Homo sapiens: one gene and its partners. The protein of the gene in region 4 purifies or fractionates together with the protein of the main gene of each other region. This does not show direct contact. Each region holds a gene or a part of one and is shown on either strand. Other genes may lie near its edges.

The links.
Region 1: the proteins of SV2B (region 4) and NUBPL purify together in Homo sapiens (affinity purification with mass spectrometry; one large-scale study listed by BioGRID and IntAct). This does not show direct contact.
Region 2: the proteins of SV2B (region 4) and FDFT1 purify together in Homo sapiens (affinity purification with mass spectrometry; one large-scale study listed by BioGRID and IntAct). This does not show direct contact.
Region 3: the proteins of SV2B (region 4) and AGK purify together in Homo sapiens (affinity purification with mass spectrometry; one large-scale study listed by BioGRID and IntAct). This does not show direct contact.

Annotation. Positions count from the first base shown.
Region 1 is NC_000014.9:31,844,404-31,848,740, forward strand, and holds part of NUBPL (iron-sulfur cluster transfer protein NUBPL isoform 1 precursor), read left to right. Parts: intron 1-2,067; coding exon 2,068-2,188; intron 2,189-4,337.
Region 2 is NC_000008.11:11,809,241-11,813,577, reverse strand, and holds part of FDFT1 (squalene synthase), read right to left. Parts: exon of another isoform or gene 4,088-4,337; intron 3,912-4,087; coding exon 3,728-3,911; intron 1-3,727. UniProt on the Homo sapiens protein: Catalyzes the condensation of 2 farnesyl pyrophosphate (FPP) moieties to form squalene. Proceeds in two distinct steps.
Region 3 is NC_000007.14:141,557,910-141,562,246, reverse strand, and holds part of AGK (acylglycerol kinase, mitochondrial isoform 1 precursor), read right to left. Parts: intron 1-4,337. UniProt on the Homo sapiens protein: Lipid kinase that can phosphorylate both monoacylglycerol and diacylglycerol to form lysophosphatidic acid (LPA) and phosphatidic acid (PA), respectively. Does not phosphorylate sphingosine. Phosphorylates ceramide.
Region 4 is NC_000015.10:91,106,060-91,111,234, forward strand, and holds part of SV2B (synaptic vesicle glycoprotein 2B), read left to right. Parts: intron 1-5,175.

The sequences.
Region 1 (4,337 bases), on a different chromosome or scaffold from region 4:
TAGTTAATAAACAAGCTGTGTGACATTAAGCTATGTTTCTCTCTAGCTTTCTGGAGATAGTACTGAATTCCCAAAACACAGCGTGATTTATTTTTTGTGATAGTGTGCATCAGCAAAAGGGCATATATTAGATGCTTGGAAAATGCTTTGCTATAGATTTATGTCTTTTTACTATTTGTCTTCATATATAATTATTGGGGGCAACTTTAGTTTTTTCTATTTCTCTTTTCAGAAAGAATAACAATTTTTTCGCCTTCTTATCTATATGTTTCATTGTGGACTATCAGTACTGTTCTTCATTTAAAATGCAAATGTTCTAATAATCTACAATCATAACCTTATGGTAGAACTGATACAGACATTGTAATCTCTAAGCCTCTGAAAATAGTGTTCTGCATTTTTATTGTAATCTCTAAGCCTCTGAAAATAGTGTTCTGCATTTTTATTCTAGAAGAGAGCTACTGCTCCTCATCAATGAGAGAGTGGGATTAAAAGGAACATGAGTAAGGATTATATTTGCAGAGCCTATCTATTTATTCAACAGTATTGTTGAATAATAACATTTCTTAAGTATCATCTTCCCTCAATATATGTGGGGGATTGGTTCCAGAATCGCCCTCCCCCCGCCACTGCATATTCCAAAATTCATGCATACTGAAGTCCCACAGTTGCTTCTAGGACATCAGCCATTCCGGTACTTGGGTTTTGTGGCGGGCAAATACTATATTTTTTATCTGTGGTTGGTTCAAAAAAAATTCACACATAAGTGGACCCCCCACAGTTCAAACTCATGTTCAAGGTTTAGCTGTATCTATTTTGTAGCAGAATCTAGGGAAACTTAGAAAGAGAATGACCTTTTCTATGAAACTTAATTTTGTTTCAGACAATAACATTCTGATAAGAGCTGAGTTTTACTCTTTTGTTAGCACTGTCAGTTTTCTCAACCATAGAATGAGAATGATAAAATAACCATCTCGGCTGGGCACGGTAGCTCACTCCTCTAATCCCAGCACTTTGGGAGGCCGAGGTGGGCGGATCACCTGAGGTTGAGAGTTCGAGACCAGCCTGACCAACAGGAAGAAACCCTGTCGCTACTAAAAATACAAAATTAGCCGGGTGTGGTGGTGCACGCCTGTAATCCCAGGTACTCGGGAGGCTGAGGCAGGAGAATCACTTGAACCCAGGAGGTGGAGGTTGCGGTGAGCCGAGATCGCGCCATTGCACTCCGGCCTGGGCAACAAGAGCGAAACTCCATCTCAGAAACAAACAAAACAAAAAACAAAATAACCATCTCATAAAGTTCTTGTGAAGAGTAAATAAGATAGTACATTTAAAGTACTTAACCCAGCACCTGGCATACAACAAACACTTCGTTATTTTAGATTTACTGTGAGACTTCGTCCAAAGTTACCTCTTAGGTATTTATTTTCCTCTGTTCCTCCCTTCTTATTTTTCTCCAAATTGTCATCAAAGATAAATTTCTAAAACAAAAATCTGATTGTATAACTACCTCTTTGATACCATCTTTTCAGCTTTGAAAACCTTTAGTGGTTTCCTGTTGTCTGAAGAGGAATGCCTCAAATACATGGATGGTATTCAGCATCTTCCCACGTGGCCCTAGCCTTCCTTCCCAAACCATCTTCTGCCTTGACCACCCACTGGGTTGCAGCCCAAGTAGGCCACACAGTTTTATTTTGCTACCTTGGCTTGTTGTCTTCCTTCTGTCTAGAATTCCTGCTGTGGGCCTCACCTCCTCATCACCCCACAACCTGAAGAAACAACTGTCTATGGGAAACTCAAAGATTTCTCTTCTTTCTAGGCAGAATTTTTGGTTCCTGTTCATTCATCTCTTTTTAGCATTTATTATGATATCAAAGGTAATTCTATATGTCTTGCTCTCTTACTAGCTCATGAGTTCCTTCAGAGCAGAGGCCATAGTTTATTCATCATTGTGATAACATTGATGAGTGCCACTAGAACTCAGTAGGCACTCTGTAAAAATTTGTTGAAGTAATGTATTAATATTTGGTTTAATTTTATTTTGATTTCAGTGTGTTTTTATTCTAGGTCCTTGGCCTTGTCCAAAACATGAGTGTTTTCCAGTGTCCAAAATGTAAACACAAAACTCATATTTTTGGTGCTGATGGTGCAAGGAAACTAGCACAGACCCTTGGTCTTGAAGTTCTAGGTAAGACTGTGGGATGTTCTTTTGTAGAAGAAGTGGCAGAAGAGAAAGTGGGGATGAGGCTTGATGATTAAGAGTGTCTCAGAGGCCGGGCACGGAGTCTCACACCTGTAATCCCAGCACTTTGGGAGGTCGAGGTGGACAGATCACGAGGTCAGGAGATCGAGACCATCCTGGCTAACATGGTGAGACCCTGTCTCTACTAAAAATACAAAAAATTATCCAGGCGTGGTGGCGGGCGCCTGCAGTCCCAGCTACTCAGGAGGCTGAGGCAGGAGAATGGCATGAACCCTGGAGGCGGAGCTTGCAGTGAGCTGAGATAGCACCACTGCACTCCAGCCTGGGTGACAGAGTGAGACTCCATCAAAAAAAAAACAAAAAACAAAAAACAGTGTCTCTGAAAATGATGAGTTGCTTTTGGCTTTGTGTTTTAAATTAATATAGCACAGTTCTATGTGTTAACCTTTCTTTGGCTTTTTTGAATAGGTTTGTTCTGTCAACTATGATAATTTCTATTTTAAATAAAAACTGTCTATAACTTAAATTTGAGAATAGAGTTTTGTAGTCCAAGTACTGTAATTTGAAGCCATATTTTAAATGATACTCATCAGTGTGTTTGCTAAGTTGGGTGTACATCTCTCAGTAGAAACAGGTACATTAAAATGTCTGTTCCGTATGTTGTAAAAACCTCTAAAAGTGTTCGTTCTTAGTGCATATGTAAAAATGCCTTCCTGATTAATTCTTTGTTAGTCTTTCTGCTTTAGAATGGCAGTATTTACTGTTTTCTGTAATATTTAATGTGTTTGATATGTCTTTAAAATATGGCACCTGAAATTTACATTGTACGCACTGTTCATGGCACTGAACTGAAGAGTTCATTAGTGCTGTGAGGAAAACTAAAATCATGTGTTAAATAAGCAAAACACAGGTTTTGGATAAAACATGATGTTCCAAAAATCCACAGGCAACTTAACAGACTTTTTAGAAAACATGTTTTGATATTCTAATTGTGAATGGGTTTCTGTTCTTGCCAAAGGCAGGTGTTAGATGCTGAATAGGGAAGGCATAAAGTGAATTATTAGACTTAGGTAGTTAAAAATTAAGATCCCTAGAGATTAAGGAATTTCAAAACATTCTCTGTTATAATTAAGTTTCTAAAAGTTGATGTTAAATATATTATTGTTATGCATTTGCACTATAGCAGCCACTACAATACCAGGTGAATACTAATGATATATTTTGATACATTGCTATAATTATAGCCACTAATTATATTCTGCAACTGTTTTTCATTTAACCCAGAAAGTTCAATTTTCCAAATCTGCATAATAACAGATTGACATTCGCTTATATAATAAAGTAAATGTGTAATTATAATGGCATTATTGAATTATACTGACAACATTGTAATTTCCTAACTTACAAATGAGCTGAACAATTTCCTAAGTCAGTTATTTAGAATTTGAAACATTTCATTGAGAAACAATGGTATGTATGGAAGTTACATTTTAACCAATGGCTCACAGATGTACAATTACCCTAAAAATGTATCAAAAACACTGACTACTGATCACAAAAATTTGATGGTGCCCTAGACTGCTATGTCTGACAGTGTTAGGGGAAAAATCATTTAGAATTCCTCGTTAGGGCACGTCCCCTCCTTTTAATGTAGTCATGGGTCCCATGGTGTCTCCCATGAAGTGGAGCAGGGCTTCAATTATGAAGAGGTTGGAATTGGGAATGAGGAACTGAAATCAGGGAAAAAGCTTTCACAGCTCTGGCCTCTTGGCCAGTTGAACCTCCTGGGAACCCTTATTTGTCCTTTACTGACTCCCTGGCAGACTCTTAATTCAGTGGGTCGTGTTTTAAATGATTATTTGGTACGATAGCTCTTGAGAACCTTATCTGTATTTACCTACAGGGACAGTTTATGCATAGTAGTTAAGGTCTCAGACCATCTCACAGAAAACCCTTTAACCTATTATATGTCTGAAATGTTTCCTCATTTCTTTCAGACTTAGCACCTCAAAAATACTTCTCAGGCTCAGACTGCTCCTCACTCACTTTTACTTTTTAAAAATCCCTGTCTAGATACAACAATTAGCCCATTACCATTCTTACTACGCACCTATTTTTAACAAGATTTTTCCCC
Region 2 (4,337 bases), on a different chromosome or scaffold from region 4:
TGAAGCCAGACCTTCCAGATTCATTGATTCTGTCACTTAACTTCACGGGTAATCCTAGGCAAAGTACTTAATTTCTCTGTGCCTCAGTTTCCTCATCTAGATAAAATGTAGATAACAGTACATTATGTACTAGGTAATTTCCCTGTTAAACGATGTTATAGATCAAATAACACAAAGAGTAAATTAACGATGAAATATATTTAGTAAGTAACTCATAGTAAAATGCTCAATAAGTGAACACTATTATTGCTATTATCATTTAAAAATAAGGCTGTATTATTACTTAAGCTATGTTTACAGGTAGACTTCTAAGCCTTCTAGCTTTCCACTAGTACCAGGTGAGAAAGATACGTGCTCATGTACTGTATAATGATGTTTCAGTCAACGGAGACTGGAAATACAATGGTGGGCCCTTAAGACTGTAACACCCTGTTTTTACTATACCTTTTCTATGTTTAAATACACAAATACTTACCACTGTGCTCCAATTGCCTACAGTATTCAGTACAGTACCATCCTGTAGAGATGTGCAGCCTTGGAGCAATGGCCTGTACCACAGAGCCTACGTCTGTAGTAGCTATGCCATCTTGGTATGTGTAAGTACACTCTATGATGTTCACAGAATGATGAAATCATCTATCAATGCGTTTCTCAGAATGTATCCTGTGGCCATTCATTAAGTGATGCATGACTGTACTCTAATCGAACCCCTAACATACAATGAGATTTCTAGAAAGCCTGACTTGAACTGGTATCAACTAATGATCACTAAAGTATAAAGGATCAGGTTCAATCTACTGTACATCGAGGCGGAAGTCACTGGGTTAGAACACTGTATTGAGGCTTATTCCTAAATTCTGCAAGGCCTGGGATAAGAGGACAAATGGAGGCCCACATACTATATGTAGCTAAAAATTTAAAAATGATCAATCGAGCTAGTAACTTAAGTAAAATATATTGTATCCTCCTGCACTGACAAACTTATCTTTGTAACAACCTGGTTGATTCAGGTTTGAATTTAGAATTCTTAGTCCCTCAGAGTTTTATTCCAGAATGCAGCAGGGCACAGACAGCTGATCCCCATATCCCAGGCTCTTCCCTTCCACTGCTTCCTGAATCCCGCTCTCTCCAGCACTGGGAGGCACCTCACATTCATTTGAGAGGATATCCCAGCCCTCGGTGCCAGGATCCATCCACAACACTCCCCAACACAGCCCTTGGCCATCACTCAGGCCCAAGGGCACAGTCAATGGTGGCACGTTCCCACCTGGAGGAGATGGACTGACCTTAGGAAATAGACTGTGCGGACGCAGACGTGGGCTCAGGGATTTGGGGCAAGGAACTCCAGATGTCCAGAACGTGGTACAGAAGGAGAGCCCACGAGAGCTGAACAAGCACATTCCCATGGCCCCAGTGATCCCTCACCCCTTTGGGAGTGAGGGGGCCTAGAATGGGGCACTCTGAAGTGAGGAGTTTCACTTGCCCCAGTCTAAGAGCAGTACTGTGTGTGAGGCCAAGGTATCAGTCCTCTTTCACACTACTTGTTCCATCCTGGGACCTCTTAGCCAAAAGCTGATTGCAGGCCTAGCCCCAGACAACTGGTTTCAAAGACATACTGAGCTATATCAGCACATACACAAATCACTCCTTAAGAAGACAAGGCACTGTTAATTCCCATACAGTCCCATCTCAAACTGAATCACAGACTGGAGGGACCTACAACTCAAGTAGCTTAAAATTATATATGCACGCAAAACACACAACTTAGTACATCTTCATATTCGTAAGGATACAAAAGGTGAACAACAGTGAAAACAGCCGTGCCTGGCTTACGCCTTCTGCTCCCTTTTACTCTTCCCGGGGCAACTGTGCTTTCAAGAGGATGGAATCTCTAACTCTACTACCCAAAAAAGAAAACGATGAGTTCAGTGTTCACATCTGAAACCTTCCAGAACTAAGCATTATTTTTCCACTGGAACACTGTATGAACACAGGAAGACACTGAAGTTTCACAAACATGTTGGAATATCATCTGGAAATCTGACGGCGATATTCCCCAAAATTATGTTAGCATTCACACACTTTCATATTCCCTCACTTCTGCTGAGGGGATAGGGCTGCCTTGACTTAGCAATACCTAACACATTTATCCCATGCCCCAGAAATTTTTTAATTATTATGAATCCACTCAAGTCAAATGTAATTTGGCTGTTTCTAGAGGCTAGGTCCAGCTAGAATAATATTAGTTGTTTTTAAGTGAGAATGCACTTCCATTATAAATGGGGTATTACTACTTCCTCTGCTTCAGCAGAATTCAGAGGCCCATCAATGAATCGCCACAGATTTCCCATCAAAGGAAACCCATCCTCTGGTCATCAGGTGTCCTGTGAGAGTCAAATCACCAGGACCTTCCCAGGGTTACAGTTCTAATTCTCACCCAGCTAGTCGTCATAAATTTTCTTTCTTCTCTTGAATTGTACTGTATAAACTCGAATTATTCTTCAGCTATTTTCTTCTCATTTGTATTATGTTGTACTATATTTGGGCTTTGGTACTTAAGGTCTGATCTCAGCAATCTGAAACAGCCTTTGCACCGCAAGAGTCTTCCCCAAACATTCCTTTTTTTTTTTTTTTTTTTTTTTTTAAATATTGCTCCCATTATGCCCAAGAATCAAAGATTCTTTTGTTTGGGTGGAGGACTCTCTGTCCACTTAGCTCCCTCCCAACTCAGCTACAGATTAGGTTTGTTTCAATAACATAAGGACTGTTCTCCAAAAGCTCTGGCAACTGTGGACAAAAAGGGCTTCTTCGAGCTATTACACAACATGTGACTTTGCTAAATCAAACCTTTATTTATAAGATATGGAAGAATCAGTTATTTGTGTGATAAGACATGCGAATTCTAGGATAGTAGGACCTAGGCAGATGTCCACATGAACTTGAGGGACTTTAAAAATCTTAGGATTTTAACTATAACCCACTTTACTCCAACAAAATAGACCAAATAGCTAATACTTACAGAATACTTACCCTGTACCAGGCACTAAGTACTTTATATGTGCGAAATTAATCCTCTCAGCTCTAACTTTACAAACGAGGAGACGGAGACACAAAGCAGATAAGGAACTTGCCCAGGATCACAGGTGAAGTGGCAGAGGCTCGCCCTAGCTGCCAACAGACACCGCCCCCATGCCAGGCTGCTGCCCATCGTGAGCAGCAGTCCCATGCTACCAGGCTCCGGGTAGTCAAGAGGCCAGCAGTGTTACAGGTAGGCTGCATCATACAGTCGGCAGGCTTTTGTGAGCTAGCCTGAGAATCTTTCACAACACTAAAATTTGACTGCGTCTTCCCACAGGAAGAAACACTGGACTTCCAATACTGATAATAACAGCAGTAGCTAACATTCTAAGAGCATTACCTACGTTAATTCTTTGAATCCTCAGAATACCATGAGGTAGGTGTTATTATTACCCCTATTTTACAGATGAAGAAACTGAGGCACAGAGAGTCTTTGTAAGTAACCAACAGTTTAGTAAGTGGGAGATTTGAGATTCCAACCCAGGCAGCCTGGCTTCAGAGTCTTGGCTACCGGAGTTTTTAACCCTCACATTATGCTGCCCTCAGAATGCTTATTTAACCTTTCTCCACATGTATGGAGGCTACCGGACAACCACGTTAGCAATTATGAACACAACAGTCCGTAGACAAGATGCGTAACCCCACTCACCGTTGGGAAGTCCTCCAGCACCTGGCGATCCTTCTCCTTGCTCTCCATGAACCGCCAGTCTGGTTGGTAAAGGAAAGAGTGAAAGTTGTGTAACAGCGGGACCTTCTTTTCCACACTGATGGTCATGTCATCTTCCAGTGTGTCCAGAGCTCGGAGAACCAGATAAAATATGCACACTGCGTTGCTGTAAAAAAGGGAAAACTATTAATATATTGGAACAAACAGCCAAAGATTTTTTATTTTAAAATAACTTGTGCCTGGCCACTTTCTAAACCCATCTCACCCTTAACTCTAAAGAACTATAAGGATATCCAACGCTTTTCATACTTAACGAAAGTTACATTAGTTTTCCTTCCTTACATGAGAGTAATGAACTTCTGTAGTTTATTAAAAAGCCTACTAGTTGAATGTCACCACTACTCCCAGAAGTGAGTTGCATTTAACCAATGTAGAACTATGGAGACCAGAAGACCAAACGTTTAGACCGAACTAATATGTAGCAAATAGAAAAGAAAGTCAAAAAACACAGTAACTTCTCAGTATAAATACGATCATACATAAAGGCAACTGGTCTAAGTTCATGGGTGTAATGTGCACAGAGGCAGCTTCA
Region 3 (4,337 bases), on a different chromosome or scaffold from region 4:
ACTGCTCCCGAGAAGGAGAAAACAACAGCTAATACCACTGCCTGCAACATCCTGGCTAACCAAAGGTCCTGAGTCTATCCATGTGACAACTTCACCGCTTGCATAACCAGCATTCAAGAAAGCCAGCACACTAAACCTATCTATAGCCAAGGATCCTCACAGAGTCTACATCATTCCCCTGCCACCTCCACCACAGCAGGTGCTGGTACCCATGGCTGAGAGACCTGAATATGGATTACATCACAGGACTCTTTTCAGACATTCCCCAGCACCAGCCTAGAGCCCGCTATCCCTGCTGGATGGCTAGATCCAGAAGACCAGTAACAATCACTGCACTTTGGTTCTCAGGAAGCCCCATCCCTAGGAGGAGCAGGAGAGCACCACATCAAGATATCGCCTCATGGGACAAAAGAATCTGAAGAGCAGGCCTTGAGTTCCAGATCCTTCTGCTTGTGGGTAGTTTCTCACAGCAGAGACAAAATTGCAGCACTGGACACAGTAGGGAAAGTTGCACCTAAACCCCAATAGGCAGGCAGCCTCTGTGATCACATAGGGCCTTGGAGAAGAGGTCCTTGTTCCCTACTGGCACTCCACCACAGAGGAACTCAAACAAATCAGCAAGAAAAAAAAAATAATTCCATCAAAAAGTGGCCTAAGGACATGAATAGACAATTCTCAAAAGATATACAGATGGCCAAGAAGTATATGAAAAAAATCTCAATATCACTAATCATCAGGGAAATGCAAATTAAAAAAAATAATGAGATACCACCTTACTCCTGCAAGAATGGCCACAATTAAAAAATTAAAAAATAACAGATGTTGGCATGGATATGGTGAAAAGGGAACACTTACGCTGCTGGTGGGAATGTAAATTAATACAACCACTATGGAAAACAGTATGGAGATTCCTTAAATAACTAAAAGCGGAACTACCATTAAATCCAGCAATCCCACTACTGGGTATCTACCCAAAGGAAAATAAGTCATTATATGAAAAAGACACTTGCATATGCATGTTTATAGCAGCAAAATTTGCAATTGCAGAAATATGGAACCAACCTAAATGCCCATCAACCAACAAGTGGCTAAAGAAAATGTGGTATATATACACCATGGAATACTACTCAGCCATAAAATAAACTGAAATAATGGGCCGGGCGCGGTGGCTCACGCCTGTAATCCCAGCATGTTGGGAGGCCGAGGCGGGCGGATCACGAGGTCAGGAGATCGAGACCATCCTGGCTAACACGATGAAACCCCGTCTCTACTAAAAATACAAAAAATTAGCTGGGTGCGGTGGCAGGCACCTGTAGTCCCAGCTACTTGGGAGGCTGAGGCAGAATGGCATGAAGCCGGGAGGCGGAGCTTGCAGTGAGCCGAGATCGTGCCACTGCACTCCAGCCTGGGCGACAGAGCGAGACTCCGGCTCAAAAAAAAAAAAAAAAAAAGAAAGAATGGCACTTGCAGCAACCTGGATGGAGTTGGAGACCATTACTCTAAGCGAAGTAACTCAGGAATGGAAAGCCAAATATCATATATTCTCATTTATAAGTGAGAGCTAAGCTATGAGGGCACAAAGGCATGAGAATGATATAAGGGACTTTGGGGACTCAGGGGGAAAGGTGGGAGTGGGGTGAGGAATAAAAGACTACACACTGGGTACAGTGTACGCTGCTCGGGTAACGGGTGCACCAATATCTCAGAAATCACCACTAAAGAACTTATCTATGTAACCACAAACCACCACCTGTTCCCCAAAAACTATTAAAATAAAACAAAATTTGTAAAAACCATAATAATAAAATGACCTGATGGGGGAAAAAAAAAAGAAGAAGAAGAAAGAAAGGACAAGGCAGCTTCCACTCAAGAAGACTACAGGGTAAGATCTTCTCAGGGTAAAAACAAGTTTGGTATAAAGAATGTGAGCACTGTTCTGTGAAAAGGTTGGGGATATATAGGCAAAAAAAAAAACGGAGGGAGGGCAACAAAAGGAAAAGTATCACAGCATAATAAAGGTCATTTATGATGAGCCCACAGCTAACATCATACCCAATTTTGAAATACTGGAAGTTTTTCTTCTAAGATCAGGAATAAGACAAAGATGTCCACTCATCACTTCTACTCAACATAGCACAGGAAGTTCTAGCCAGAGCAATGAGGCAAGAAAAAGAAATAAAGGCATCCAAACTGGAAAGGAAGAAGTAAAATTATCTCTATTCACAGATGACATATCTTATATGTAGAAACCCTAAAGATTCTACACCAAAAAAAAAAGCTGTTAGAACTAATAAATTCAGCAAAGTTGTAGGATACACAACACACAAAAATCAGTTATATTTCTATATCCTAAGAATGAACAATCTGAAAAGGAAATTAAGAACACAATCCCATTAACAATTGCATCAAAAGAATAAAATACTTAGGAATAAACTTAAGCAAGTAGGTAAAAGACTTATACGCTAAAAACAAAACACTGCTGAAAGAAATTAAAGAGTACAATAAAAAGACATCCCGTGTTCATAAATTAGAAGACTTAATATTGTTCAAATGTCTATTCTACAAAACAATGTACAGATTCAATGCAATCCCAATGGCATTTTTTGCAAAAATAGAAAAAACATCCCAAAATTCATATGGAATCTCAAGAAATCCCCAAACATCCAAAACAATCTTGAAAAAGAACAAGGATGGAAGTCTTATATGTACTAAATTTAAAATATATTACAAAGCAATAGTAATCAAAACAGTGTGGTATTGGCATAAATACAGATATATAGACTAATGAACAACAGAAAGCCCAGAAATAAATCCTCATCTATATGGTCAAATGATCTTCAATAGGGATGCCAAGACCACGCAATGGGGAAATGACAGTCTCTTCAACAAATGGTAATGGAAAAACTAGATATCCATATGGAAAATAATGAAGCTGAACCCCTATCTTATACCATATAAAAAAAATTAACTCAAAATCTGTTAAAGACCTAAATGTAAGACCCAATATAAAACTCCTAGAAGAAAACATAGGGAAAAGCTTCATGACACTGGATTTAGCAATGATTTCTTGAATATAACACCAAAAGCAGAGGCAAACAAAAGCAAAAGTAGACAAATGGGCCTTAACGAAACTAAAAACAATATATATCAAAGGACATGATCAATAGTGTAAAAAGGCCAGCTACAGAATAGGAGACAATATATTGAAAATTCTATATCTCACAAGGGATTAATATCTGGAATCCATAAAGAACTCCTACAGGCCAACAACAACAAAACTCAATTAAAAATGGAAAAAGGACTTGAACAGACATTTCTCCAAAGATTTTTAAATGGCCAACATGCATGTGAAAAGATGCTTGACTTCCTTAATCATTAGAAAAATGCAAACCAAAACCACAATGACATATCACCTCACACTCATAAGGATAGCCCATATCAAAGAAACAGAAAATAACAAGTGTTGATGAGGGCGTGGAGAAACTGAAAACCTTGTACACCGTTTGTGGGATTGTAAAATGATGAGCCACAATGGAAAACAGTATGAAAGCTCTTCAAAAAATTAAAAATAGACTACCATATGATCTAGCAATCCCCACTTCTGGGCATATATCCAAAATAATTAAAAACAGGATCTCCAAGAGGTATCTGTACACTCAAGTTAATTATAGCATGTTTCACAATAGTCAAGAGGTAAAAGCAACCAAAATGTCCATTGACAGATGTAAAGACCATACCTCTTTAAACGTAAAGAATATATCTTTACATTTAGAGATAATATAGGCCAGGCGCAGTGGCTCACACCTGTAATCCCAGCACTTTCAGAGGCCAAGGCGGGCAGATCACCTGAGGTCAGGAGTTCGAGACCAGCGGGCCAACATGGTTAAAAAAAAAAAAAACCATCTCTACTAAAAATGGAAAAATTAGCCAGGCATGGTGCACGCGCCTGTAGTCCCAGCTGCTTGGGAGGCTGAGGCAAGAGAATCACTTGAACCTCGGAGGCAGAGGTTGCAGTGAGCCAAGATCACACCACTACACTCTAGCCTAGGTGACAGAGCAGGACTCCGTCTCAAAAAAAAAAGAAAAGGTAAAGATAATATAAACATTATAGACATTATAAGTGAAATAAGCCAACCACAAAAATACAAATACTATATGACTCACTGACACAAAGTATAAAGTGGTCAAATTCCTAGAAACAGAAAGTAGAATAGTGGTTGTCAAGGACAGCTGGGTTGGGGCGGGAATGGGCAGTTGTTCAATGGGTACAGAGTTTCAGTTTTGCAAGATGAAAAAGTTCTAGAGATCTGTTGAACAACAATGTGAATATACTTAAC
Region 4 (5,175 bases):
AAATAAAAAAAGATGGTGAGAAGTGGCTAAATTCATAAAGCAGGCAGGATGTGTGGATGAGTTAGATACTTAGAGTATGAGAAAAAGATGACATAATGAATTTTGACCTAAGCAGCTGGATGGAGTAGCACTTTAGTGAGGTGGAGAGGAAACAGTGATGGGGTTTAATTGGATATCCAATGGGAGATGTTAAGTAGTTCATTGCATATGAGAGTCTAGAGTTCAGGGAAGAGTTTCAGGAAGGAGACATAGGTTTGAGTATCATTAGCATGTTATTTATTTTTCCGTGAGCCAAGTCACTGCTGTATCACTAGTGCCCAGAATATTGTCTGGCACATTGTATATCCTCAATGGATATGTACTGAATGAGTGAATGGAACCACTTACTTACTAGAGTTGACTGCAAATCTTTGCTTTGGTGGATTTTGAAGTGTAACTCCTTGAAGTTATTTCCTTTCTTTACAAGGTCTCATGGGAGCCTTATTGTGGATCTTATGCACTAAAAAGAGGCTTTAAATGTGAAGGCTCCAATCGCTTATATCATACGGAAAGCAACGTGTGGTGACAAGAAAGAAAGAGGAACAAGTGGAAACCAAAAAATAGCTCATATTTTCAAAAAATGAGAAAAGATCCTTTAGAGGGAGGTGGCTGAAATTCAGGGGTGTGATGTTCTTGGGTTATTATTGTACTGCTCTTAATTTAAGATGAGGCAGAAGCAAGGAAGAATCTTGAAAGGGGAGAATTTTATTTAAATCAATTTATGCCGAGTGTCACCAGCTTGCTTGAGAAACCCCACATCTACAGTAGCTTGCATAATGTGTTCCTGTTTATAAAAGGAAGAAATAGGGAATAGCCTTCATAGGAAAAGGGGAGGGCTGGAATGACTTCAGCCTCAGGCTGTGGGTGCTGTCCATTTTCTTCTCGTGGTGTGTCTGATTCTATATAAGTTTTGTTTGCAATGATGTTGGTGAAGGGAGTGAAACAAGAAAAAGCAGGTACTGCTGTTGAAAGTGGTTGTGTGTGTGTGTGTGTGAGGGAGAGAGAGAGAGATGGAGAATGTGCCAGTGGCGGAGAAAAAGAACCAAATCCCAGAAGGAAGTGTGAGAAAGAGATGCAAGCTGCCCTTCATTTTTACGTGTGGTTACTAGGCCTGACCACATGGGGCTAGGATGGAGCAGTGGGCTTTAGCATCAGACAGAACTGGGTTTGCACTCAGACTTCATTACTTTATTTGTTTGTTTATTTATTTATTTATTTATTTATTTATTTTTTGAGATGGAGTATCCTTCTATCACCAGGCTGGAGTGTAGTGGCACAATCTTAGCTCACTGCAACCTCTGCCTCCCGGGTTCAAGCGATTCTCCTGCCTCAGCCTCCTGAGTAGCTGGGACTACAGGCACGTGCCACCACGCCCAGCTAATTTTTGTATTTTTAGTAGAGACGGGGTTTTACCATGTTGGCCAGGATGGTCTTGATCTCTTTACCTTGTTATCTGCCCGCCTTGGCCTCCCAAAGTGCTGGGATTACAGGCGTGAGCCACCGTGCCCGCTAACTTTCTATTTTTTTTTGAGACAGGGTCTCACTCTGTCAACCAGGCTGGAGTGCAGTGGCGTGAACTCAGCTCACTGCAGCCTTGACCTCCCGGGCTCAAGTGATCTTCCCATCTCAGCCTCCAAAGTAGCTGGGAATACAGGCATGCACCACCATGCCCGGCTAATTTTTAAATTTTTTTGTAGAGGTGGGATCTTGCTATGCTGCCCAGGCTGGTCTTGAACTCATGGGCTCAAGTGATTCTTCCACCTTAGTCCCCAAAGTGGTGGGATTATAGGTGTGAGTCACCATGCCCAGCCCAAGCTTCCTTACTTTCTAGCTGTGTAAACTTGAGCACATTATTTAATTTCCCTGAGCCTGGGTTTCCTCAGTTGTAAGGTGATGATGGTGGTGTGGTGTGGTGGTGGTGATGATGATGATGATAGTAATCATACCCCAGTGTTCTGCAGTCTCCTTCATGCTCCTGGACTTGGAACTATGTTGGTGTAAATATTGATTAAAGGATTACCATACCAGCTGAAGGACTTAAAGATTTTATGTGAAGGGAGAAATGAGAATTTGATGTTCACAGTGCCATTTAGAAGATTATTTCCATGGGGCCCATAATGTTCAAAATTAGACAAAGGGACAATAATAAAATGTCTAGCCTTATGGGCTAGACATTTCAAGGTGCCTCAGAGGAAAACTAACCTCCCTTCTCTGCAATAAGCCAATCTCCTTAGTTCAGTTCTGCAGTGTCGCATAGTTTGTTGGAATTCCATAATGAAAATTTTGGAGTCATGTGTAGTATATAGATGCAGAAGCTTTCCTGTCTGATGCCTTTGTGGCTCCCACAGAATCCACTGCATGGTGTTCTTCTGGAAAGGTCTGTGGTTCTTCCTGTTCCAGGCACATAGTAGGCACACTATACGTATTTATTAGATACATGGTGAATAAATGCTGCTGTGTTTTCTCTGTTGGCTGTGGCTCTCTTGGTTGCTCCTCCCGGCCTGGGCAAGAGATCAGCAGGTAAGTGACAGTGATGAGCTAAGTCTCTGGCAGGTACTCAGCAGCTAATGTTACCCTCTCTCCACCACCCTCATGCCTTGGCTACCATTCTGACATCCCCTAGATCAAGAATCATATACTCAGCTTTCCCTTTAAGCCCCCAGTTACATCGTCAGCAAAGCCAAAGCTCCCTTGCTGTCCTGACCTTTGATTACAGGTAACGCAACAGTGTCTCCTGACTTAGCAACAAAGACCCACACCTGGGTTCCCTGCTTCAGCTCCCACACAGAAGCCTGTGGTCCCGTTAAGTCTTCCTGTTTTCTATACACACTTCTGCTCCACCCACCTCCTGTTCCCTTCAGTTGTTAGAGCTTGATTCTGTATGGGTTGGCAGGGGAGAGAGTAGCATTAATTTTCTTTTCACAAAAGGCAATTGAAAATTCTCTCCTAACGGATGACTGTCTAGCCCCTCAGAACTGAACTTCTTCAGGAGGCAGATAGGCTACATCCTTCCTCCTGTGCCCATTTTACAGATGAGATATCTGAGGCGCAGAGAAAAGAAATGACAGACAAAAGTACCCTTGGAAAAGTGGATGCACAATCTCATTTGTTTCCTGCCAGCTCTGCATAGATGCAAGAGAAGGTAATTCTTCCAGACCGCTGGGGCCTTCTTGAATCACGGATGTCTGCATCCAGAAGCTGATTGTTGAATCACAGGTGTCTGGATTTGGAAGTTGACTGTTCAAACTGGGAGCTTGGTGCTGTTAAGTACTTCTTATGTCAACCCCAGGTGATATGTGTGTGGGCAGGAGCTCTAGGCTCCCAAAACTCACCTAGGTGTGATAGGTGTGATTTACAATTCTGTTTTCATGATCATTTCATGAGAGAAACCTGCAAATGAACACTGCTAAGGAGATGGAACAGAACACGTTAATGGATAAATGAGCTGTCTATCATTACCCCTGAGTGAGCGTGATTTGTTTTAATGAATATTTCATGGGCAGGTTCCTTTTCAGGTCCAGAATATGCTCAAGTCAATGAAGACCTTAATTGAACTGTAGGATCTTACAGTTTCAGAGCTCGAAGGGACCCTAGAAAGCGGGGAATCCAAACTTCTTATTATTCAAGGAAGGAAATAATTAAAAAAATTTTTTTGGTACATGTTCTTGCCCTGTTGCCCAGGCTGGAGTGTAGTGGCACAATCTTGGTCTCACTGCAACCTCTGCCTCTTGGGCCCAAGCAATCCTCTCACCTCAGCCTCCCAAGTAGCTGGAATTATAGGCGTGTCCCACCATACCTGGCTAATTTTTTAATTTTTTGTAGAGACGAGGTCTCATTATATTGCCCAGGCTGGATTTCCCAAGCAATCCTCCAGGCTTGGCCTCCCAAAGTGCTGGGATTACAGGCATGAACCACTGCATCCACCTCGGAAATAGCTTATTTGGGTGGATAAAAGAGCTGTCCGTCATTACTCACATTACAAATCACGCTCACTCAGGAGTAATGATGGACAGCTCATTTATCCATTAACGTGTTCTGTTCCTTCTTCTTAGCAGTGTTCATTTGCATGTTTCTCTCATGAAATGACCATGAAAACAGAATTGTAATTTATAAGAAAAGAGGTTTAATTGGCTCCTGGATTCATACAGTAAGTTAATGATGGAGAGAGGGTCAAAGCTCAGGTCGGGGCTGTAGCAATGTTAAGTTTGTATGAGAGGCCAAGAGAGAACAGGAAAACGGGGTGTGGGTCCCCTACACTGTCATGCTTAGAAACCCTCTGAAATGGCACAACTAGTTCTCCCAAGCAGGTGAGAGCCTGGTTAGGCCCCTCAACAGCCTCCTCTGATTGCTCAATCCTCTGGGATTTTCCCTGCCTGGCTCCCAGAGCCCAGGCCCAGTGAGGGTGGCTCCTGTGTTGCCTGCCATCCCTGCTCTATCGCACGCAGAATCTGACCGTGGCCTCTCGCCTGATCTGGGGTGCAGCAGATGGCGCCGAGGAATGGAGCCCAGCTGGCACGTGGGAGGCTCTGCGGGAGAGGAAGAGGCACCGTGGGGTGGCCTGCCCTAGGCAAAGTGCTGGGCCTGGGAGATGGGGCTGGAAAGGTCATGGGAATGTCGGGAGCCTCTGCCCTTGACCCTGGAGGGCTCAAGGAATTTAGTTCCACCCCTAGCACTATGACAAGTGACGAACACATCCCACACATGCCAGTGTAAGGGTCTGTGAATTAAATGCAGCCACTTTAATTTTTGTTTTTTAAAGCAAAGCATAAACATGAAGCTTTAAGGAAAGGAAAGCTATAGGGTAGCAATGTAAAGGCAGTAGCTTGAAACTTAAGGCAAAGAAGAGAAACTCAAATGGGACAATGGAGAAGTAGATGAGAAAGGGTATATGAAAACACGGTGGGGTGCTGAGCCAGCTTCTCCTATTTCCCATGATGGATAAGGTCTTTTTTTTGGTGGCGCCGCCCACGTCTGTGGCAGAAAAGCTGTGCTGGGCTCCCACCCTCATATCACAGGACTGGTGGCCGCCTGCTTCTTCGGTGGCTCAGCATGCAGCATCTCGGGGCACTACAGAGGGCTGTCAGAGGCCGGGCTAGTCCTATCAGGTTTCTCAGTTTTACCTGTGTCACTCCCAGG